Linked DNA regions of Homo sapiens. Changing the gene in region 1 together with any one later gene gives a genetic interaction. Each region holds a gene or a part of one and is shown in the gene's direction. Other genes may lie near its edges.

Region 1 (3,600 bases):
TCCGCCTGCCTCGGCCTCCTAAAGTGCTGGATTATAGCCCACCCAATCCTATTTTTTTAAATGCTGTCCATTAATGCATTCTGACTTCTTGCTTGAAAACCCCTGGTTTAGTGGATAAGCACCTGTAACTCCAGGAAGATTCAGGATTAAGGGCAGAAATAATGAAGTAAATTGAAGTATTAGCATTAGTATTTTCCATTACATTTTGGAATCGTCTATTTTGATGTATTCACGACGGTTAAAATAATTTAACATGCTAATGTATGGATTAACTTGGCAATTCCATTTTAAAATATTAAATGGAATAACGATTCTGACTCGTAAGTAGACATGTGTAACAGAATTCAACCACATCTGTAAACCATATTGAAATTATGAGAGTAAGATTTACCAACCACATTTAGGTTTGACATATTAGATTTGTGAGTGAACTATGTACTTGGATTTTGTCAAGTAACTCAATCGCTTAACAAAATAACAATTAAATGTATAAATGCAGTTTATAGCTATACATTATTTTTAAAAATCCCCTTCGAATGACTCTTTAAAACATACCAGGGGATACGCTACTTAAGTATAACTAGGTTTTGGATTTATAACGTTAATATTAATTATTAAAGCAAAACTCATTTCTAAAGAGTCGCCTGAGTGCCCAAAAGACGCCCTCAAGGACAGGGAAGCAGCTGCGATTCACTCAGCGATCACCAGCGCCCAGAATTCAGGGCCGCCCAAGCGGAGGAGCAACACGTGGCCCAGCAAAAGGAGCTGGGTCCCGTGCAGCACAGCAACAAGAAACTGGCCTAGGAAGACGCTGGAGCGTCTTTCTTTCGCACGTTACTGCCTGCTACAGTCATTTAAAAAAAAAAAACCAAAAACAAAAAAAAGAAATAAATTAATAGTACGAAGAAAACTGCGCGAGCTACATTCCCAGCAGGGTCTGCGCCAGAGCGCGCCAGGCACCGCTCCCGTTACGGGTGGGAGGAAAGGATGCACCGCCCACCCGGCGCCGGGGAGGCTCGTCCCCGAGTAGGGGACGGGAACGCCTGGGTCCCGGGGACGTGGGGCGCAGGGTCTGGGGCCCGAGGCCACGGACGAAGCGGGAAGCCGGCTAGGCAGCGGTCTCTGTCTGGGATGGACGCCGCGCCCCACGCGGACCTCCCGCCCCGACTTCACCCAGCTCTGCTGCCCGTAACTCATATGACAAGAACATCAGGAACCGGACTATTACCCCGAAAGGGCCTTCCCAAGTCGTTTCGCCGCCTGCAGTGCCCGACCGGGGGCCGCGCGTCCCCGGCAACCACGCCCGCCCGCGCAGCTGCAGAGGCCGGAAAAGGCCCGCTCGCCCGCGCTCGGCACCACCCAGCCCGCGCTCCGGGCGATACCACCCTGGGCGGCCCCTCCAAAGGCCGGAGATGGTGTCGTCCCCGGCCTCCGATTGGTCGGGGGGGCGGGGGCGTGGCCTCTGGAGCCTGGTTCCGCGCGCCGGAGCGCGCTAGCCGCATTGCGAGCCGAACCCGGGAGCTGGCGCCATGGTGAGGAGTGGTTGCGGGGCGCGGGCGACGCGACGGTGGGGGTTTCGGCCTGCGTTCGGGCCGCAGACAGGGCCTGGGCCTGGGCCTGGGCCTGCGCCTGCGCCTGCGCCTGCCCTGGGAACGGGTTCCGGCAGACGCTGAGGTTGCGTTGACGCTCGCGCCCCGGCTCCCGTTCCAGGTGCTGTTGCACGTGCTGTTTGAGCACGCGGTCGGCTACGCGCTGCTGGCGCTGAAGGAAGTGGAGGAGATCAGTCTGCTGCAGCCGCAGGTGGGTGAGATCCGTGGGCTCCTTTGGCGGCCCCGCAGACCCTCATCGCGCGGGTCCCAGCATGCACAGCGCGCTCCCACGTGGCCGGCCGAGCGGTTCGGGGCGGGGGGACGGGCCTGGAAAGCTCTAGATCCGGGGGTCTTTACCTTGACCCATGGGTAGAATCGCTCTAGCAATTAGAAATAAGCCTCCCGGACGCCGCCCCCGAACGATTAAAGCAGAAGCTGGGATGTGGGGCCCAGGTATCAGCATATTTTAAGAGCTTCCAAGGCTGAGAACCGCTGCTTGACTGCGCCGCAGAGGCAGGAGGGAGGGAAGGAAACCACTTAGCCTCTTTCTCCCCCCAGGTGGAGGAGTCTGTGCTCAACCTGGGCAAATTCCACAGCATCGTTCGTCTGGTGGCCTTTTGTCCCTTTGCCTCATCCCAGGTTGCCTTGGAAAATGCCAACGCCGTGTCTGAAGGTAAGTCGGCCACCGCCAAGTGTCACAGAGAGATGTGGTTCCTTTCGGTATCCTCTCGGGCAGCTTGTGATAGTATTTGCCGTCCTTGGCTGGCTCTGAGTCTGATAGGCGTGAGGCAGTATTTGAGCCATACAATGTGTAATTTGAAATAATTGTCTTCACAGAGCTCAAGGTCTGGGAACTGTGCTAGACCAAACTGTTTAAGCAGACGATGTGGAATGTGTGTTAACGTTTCCTTGTGGGCACTGTAGTGACAAACTATTTTTTATTTTTATTTTTTTTGAGATGGAGTCTGTCCCCCAGGCTGGAGTGCAGTGGCAAGATCTGGGCTCACTGCAACCTCTGCCTCCCTGGTTCAGGCGATTCTCCTGCCTCAGCCTCCCGAGTAACTGGGATTACAGGCCTGTGCCAGCCACCACACCCGGCTAATTTTGTATTTTTGGTAGAGACGGGGTTTCACCATGTTGGCCAGGCTAGTCTCCATCTCCTGACCTCGTGATCCGCCCGCCTCGACCTCCCAAGGTGCTGAGGTTGCAGGCGCGAGCGACGGTGCCCGGCCGACAAAGGGGGGTTTCTTAAAGGGGGTCGGCTTAACACCTACTTGTGCCTGAGGTTTTGCCTAAACACAATCAAGTGTCTGGTTCTCTGCTTTCTGTTCGATTGGAAAGGGCAGTTGGGTAAACACAGGCTGAGAAAAAAAGGTTTGGTTCCAGAAGGCAAATTCTACGAAATACTCGAGGGTGTGTTACAAGCTATTATTTATTGCCCACTTGTGCTATCAGACCTGAATGCAGTTGTTCCCATGGCTGGGCCAGGCTTTGCAGTGATGACTTGCGAATCAAATCTGTCAATCCCCTGAGTGCAATCACTGATGTCTCCATGTCTCTGAGCAATGCCTGATGGGGAGGGATCTAGGTATGCCATCCCAGCGTGCTCGGTGGGACCAGGGTAGTCAGCTGAGGGATGTTAGAGTTGATCGTCCTTCAGCCTGTTAGTGGGAACTGTGTTCTTTCCCCTGAGGGGTTGTTCATGAGGACCTCCGCCTGCTCTTGGAGACCCACCTGCCGTCCAAAAAGAAGAAAGTACTCTTGGGAGTTGGGGATCCCAAGATTGGTGCCGCAATACAGGAGGAGTTAGGGTACAACTGCCAGACTGGAGGAGTCATAGCTGAGATCCTGCGAGGTGAGACCATCATCTGTTATATTCCTGTTATCCTGGACATTTTGGGGGAGGAGGTTCTGGAAACTTGGTTGCTTGTTGTGATTTCTGGGAAGGCCTTCAGGCTGGGCTGGTGCCCGTGGGTGCGGGAGCTAGCTCAGAGCCCCTTGTTGCTCACCG
Region 2 (4,022 bases), on another chromosome or scaffold:
ATGCCAGGTTTTGAAAGAGGAAGTAATTCTGTTGTCTCCAGGAGACCTAAGACCCAAACCATCTATGTATCTTTACTCTTTAGTCTGATACTTTTCAGAGACTATAGGAGTAGTGGACTTAGAAAAATAGAACATCCTGAGGACTCAAAAGTGGGTATCCAAACTAGCTGAAGCAGCTGTTCCACTTCTATAAACACGTATTTTTATTTAATTCTTGAAGGCAGACAGCCAAGTTGAGACAGCATTCTGCTTCTGCCTCTCATTTCTACTACTTTGGTGTACAGGAGCTCAGTTACCAAGTGGGCAACGTGGATTTAAGAGAAGAAATAAGCCCTTCCATCCCAATGTTCTGTTTTTCTCTAACTACTTTTGTCATTGTAGGTTTGGGAGAGGTGGTGGGACACAGTTAATACCCTTTGTCACTCAGGAGAGGGTGAGACATAATTGCACGTCTGTTGAGTAATAATAAATAGCCTACATTGGAATAGTGCCTTATAGTTTAGTAAATCCACTCCCACAAAGCATTGACATCTTCAAGTGCATGCTGTTTTTTTTTTCTTTTTTTCCCACTGTTTTTGAAGCATACCATATTAAAGAATTTTTTGTATCATGCCAAAGCCTTCTATCCATTCCCTACCATTCTTATTCCCTGACCTTTTTATGTCTCATTTTCCCTTTTGAGGGCTCAGCTTTGATCAAAAGCTAGTGGCAAATGTTACAAAGGTGGTAAAACCCTTAGGCACATACATAATGGCCTTTTGCCTTACCAGAGGCCTAGGCTTAAATATTTTCTCCTTACATTTAGCTAGAGATTTCTATATTTATTTCATCTTGAATTCTGATTCATCTCTTTCTTTTCATTTGTTCTCAGTCTCTATTGAAAAATGGACCAAGTGGTTCTTCTTATTTTCAAAACATTTAATTCTTTGGATGACATATGGGTTCTTCTTGGGAGCTGTTTTGACATATTTCTTTAATTAGTCAGCAGGGCTGCATTTGAATAGAGGAGGAATCTTTTCCTCCATTCAGCAAAGGAATGGCTGTCCTTTATGGAGACCATTCTATTATTGGCCCAGGAAAAAAGGGTATAGAATTAAAAATGTAGCCTAAATATTTCATGTGAAAGATTTGTCCACTTGTTGTAGGCCTGAAGGATGCTCATGGAGAAACAGGGCAAAAGAAATAATCAAAGAATAGTTCCTTCTCAAAGGCAGCATGAATCAAACTAAGATAAACGCCATGATAAAGAAAGAATAATGGAAAGTTTGGAATTAAAGCAGCATATAAATCATCAAGCAGGAAAAGGATTGTCTGTGGTTTGCAATAAGAGGACATCTTTGGAGTGCATAGAGGAGAATGACAGCAAAACAGGAAAGATGGGGGTTGGAGGAAGCCGAAGAATAAAAGTAGAATATCCATAGCTCTGTCCAACAACTTGTAGAGGACAGCCACAGGTTGGGTTTCTTGAAGAGGTTAGGAAAAGCACTGTAGAAGGGGAGGAGAGTGAGTGCCAAGCTATGGGGGCTGGAGGGCTGGAGAGAGCCCACCATATTTGGAGAACAGTGAAGGACCAGTTTGGAGTAGGGGCTAACTTAGGATGACTTACGGAAGAAATAGTTGAAAAGATATGTTGAGGTCAAATTATGGAAGAGATAATGGTTAGGAAGGGGTTGGAAGATATAAAGAAAAAGTGAAAGAGTTTGAGCAGAAGTGAATGAGACCAGAGGAAGGATGTCCTAGAAATTGTGCCTGAGTAAAACAGAAAGAAAAGGAATTGAAGGGTGAGAGTGAAATTTGGAAAAAAAAAAAAAAGGATTTGGCTTTTTCATTGTTGTTGTTATTAATTTTATAACAATTTAAAAACAATAACCTCTTAGAGAAAATGAAGAAAATGAGTTGGAAAGAACATATTTTCGGGGAAAGATGTATTATTGCAAGTACGGTAAGAGTTATGGTTAAGGCAGCTTGTTGAATAGGAAGAAAAATAGTGGATTAGAGAAGTATTTTAAGACTGGGGCAAAAACGACTCTAGTTAATTACTACAGTGAGCAGAAAATAGAAAATTATTTGACAGATAATTTAATTTAGAGTCTTAATTGTAAAGAATCTTTAAGAAAGTTTGTGTATTTATATTTATGTTACACATATGTTTATGTAGACAGTAAATCTAGCCAAGGTCATGATAATGAACCATAACATGAATTTTGGTGAATTAAAAAGAGATTCTAGGGATTGAAATGAATTTGAAGAGCAAACAGTGAAAGTTATTTTTAAGAATAATGAAAAGTTATCTAACTAATACAAATATATTCAAACTGAAAAGTCCAAATAACAGAGGAAATCTAGTGAGAATTATTTGTTGAGCCATGTAAATGTTTGAAATATTTTGGGGAATTAGGATAGAAGTCACATGCTGGGTTAGAACATATGATAGCAATAGAATCTCATTGAAAAATCAAGCCCTGTTTTGAAAATGTACTAAAGGAAAGGTGCTAAAGAAATGGGAAGTAAAACTACAGAGATAGCTAGTTAGCCAAAAGGTTTATTCTAAGCAGAATATTGCTTAGCCACATATACAAAAGGCAAGAGATTTTAGTTGGACCCAGAGGCTTGGGAGAGAAAATAACAAGGTAAGTACATTAATTTTATTAACCTGTAAGCGACTGTATTTTAGCTTTCTTAGGTGAATGTTTGTGCCATATGGAAAAAACATCTCTTTGCTTACTATTGGCACAATGAGCCCTGTTTGAAATACCTATTAAAATATACATGAGTGCCTACTGTGTGCACAACACAAATCTCATTAGCCTCTTTTTAAAATATGCTGAAACAAATCACTGCCTAACTTGTAACTCATGTATTGTTTTTCTGCTCCTTCAAAGTCATCAAAGCAGTATTCGAGTCTATATGTTAGGTGCTGTTTTGAGAAGGCAGAGACTGCATTCCATGAGAAGGAGACCAGGTTGGATGGTGGAAGTAAGGGTATTCAAAGTGCTGGTATAGAGTAATATAGTAGTAATAGGTCCATGATGTGGGGATAATGTTTGAGGAAAGCCAGGAATACAAATTACTGAGTATTAATCTCAAGAGTTTGGGATCAAAACCTCAGAATACTTTGGATAGGATTGAAAATAGAGTGTTGGCAGGGCGCGGTGGCTCACACCTGTAATCCCAGCACTTTGGGAGGCCGAGGCTGGCAGATCACCTGAGGTCAAGAGTTCGAGACCAGCCTGGCCAACATGGTGAAACCCCATCTCTACTAAAATACAAAAAAAAATAGCTAGGCATGGTAGCAAGCGCCTGTACTCCCAGCTACTTGGGAGGGTGGGGTGGAAAATCGCTTGAACCCTGGAGGCGGAGCTTGCAGTGAGCCGAGATCACGCCACTGCAGTGACAGAGCGAGACTCTGTCTCAGGGAAAAAAAAAAGAAAACAGAGTGTCTTCTGCTTTAGAACCAGCAGACCTTAGGCTGTAGATATCCAGCTGGTAGTATGGTTCTCAGATTTCTGGATCAATAGTGGTATCACAGGGCTGATGTCTCAGGTATCTTGTGGACCCAATGTTGCTTCCCTTGGGACCATTTTCTGATTCAGAGGTTCATCAAAATGGTCTTATATGTCCTTTACTAGGTTAAGTGATTCACTTAATTTAAATGGAAGGGTATAACATCACTTGCGTTATTCCATGTTTCTTAACACTGTGTGTGGACAGTTTAAGATGATTCATAATTGCTCCTTTATGTGCTATTGGGCATATGTTCATAAAAATAGATTGTAACACACATAAACTTTCTCATGTAATTAAAAACCATGTTAACATCTATTTTTTCTATTCAAGACTGCTAGACAAATATATAACATTTTAAGCTGATAATTTTGAAAATATTTATTAAGCAAGACTTTTAAACCATCTATTTGTGCTATATTAGATGTGTACCCCTGGTTGCAAATAATTTGATAAGCAGGAAAAGGCTTATTGAAGGGTAGATCGTAGAGTCAACTGAAGGTGGTAGAATGACAAGG

What was found.
Region 2: of NOP56 (region 1) and ATG10, changing one suppresses a phenotype caused by changing the other (phenotypic suppression), as found in Homo sapiens cells (one large-scale study listed by BioGRID).

The regions. Positions count from the first base shown.
Region 1 is NC_000020.11:2,651,132-2,654,731, forward strand, and holds the start of NOP56 (nucleolar protein 56), read left to right. Parts: upstream 1-1,500; 5' UTR 1,501-1,529; coding exon 1,530-1,532; intron 1,533-1,645; exon of another isoform or gene 1,646-1,710; coding exon 1,711-1,800; intron 1,801-2,147; coding exon 2,148-2,262; intron 2,263-3,080; exon of another isoform or gene 3,081-3,155; intron 3,156-3,282; coding exon 3,283-3,444; intron 3,445-3,600. UniProt on the Homo sapiens protein: Involved in the early to middle stages of 60S ribosomal subunit biogenesis. Required for the biogenesis of box C/D snoRNAs such U3, U8 and U14 snoRNAs. Part of the small subunit (SSU) processome, first precursor of the small eukaryotic ribosomal subunit.
Region 2 is NC_000005.10:82,167,523-82,171,544, forward strand, and holds part of ATG10 (ubiquitin-like-conjugating enzyme ATG10), read left to right. Parts: intron 1-4,022. UniProt on the Homo sapiens protein: E2-like enzyme involved in autophagy. Acts as an E2-like enzyme that catalyzes the conjugation of ATG12 to ATG5. ATG12 conjugation to ATG5 is required for autophagy. Likely serves as an ATG5-recognition molecule. Not involved in ATG12 conjugation to ATG3.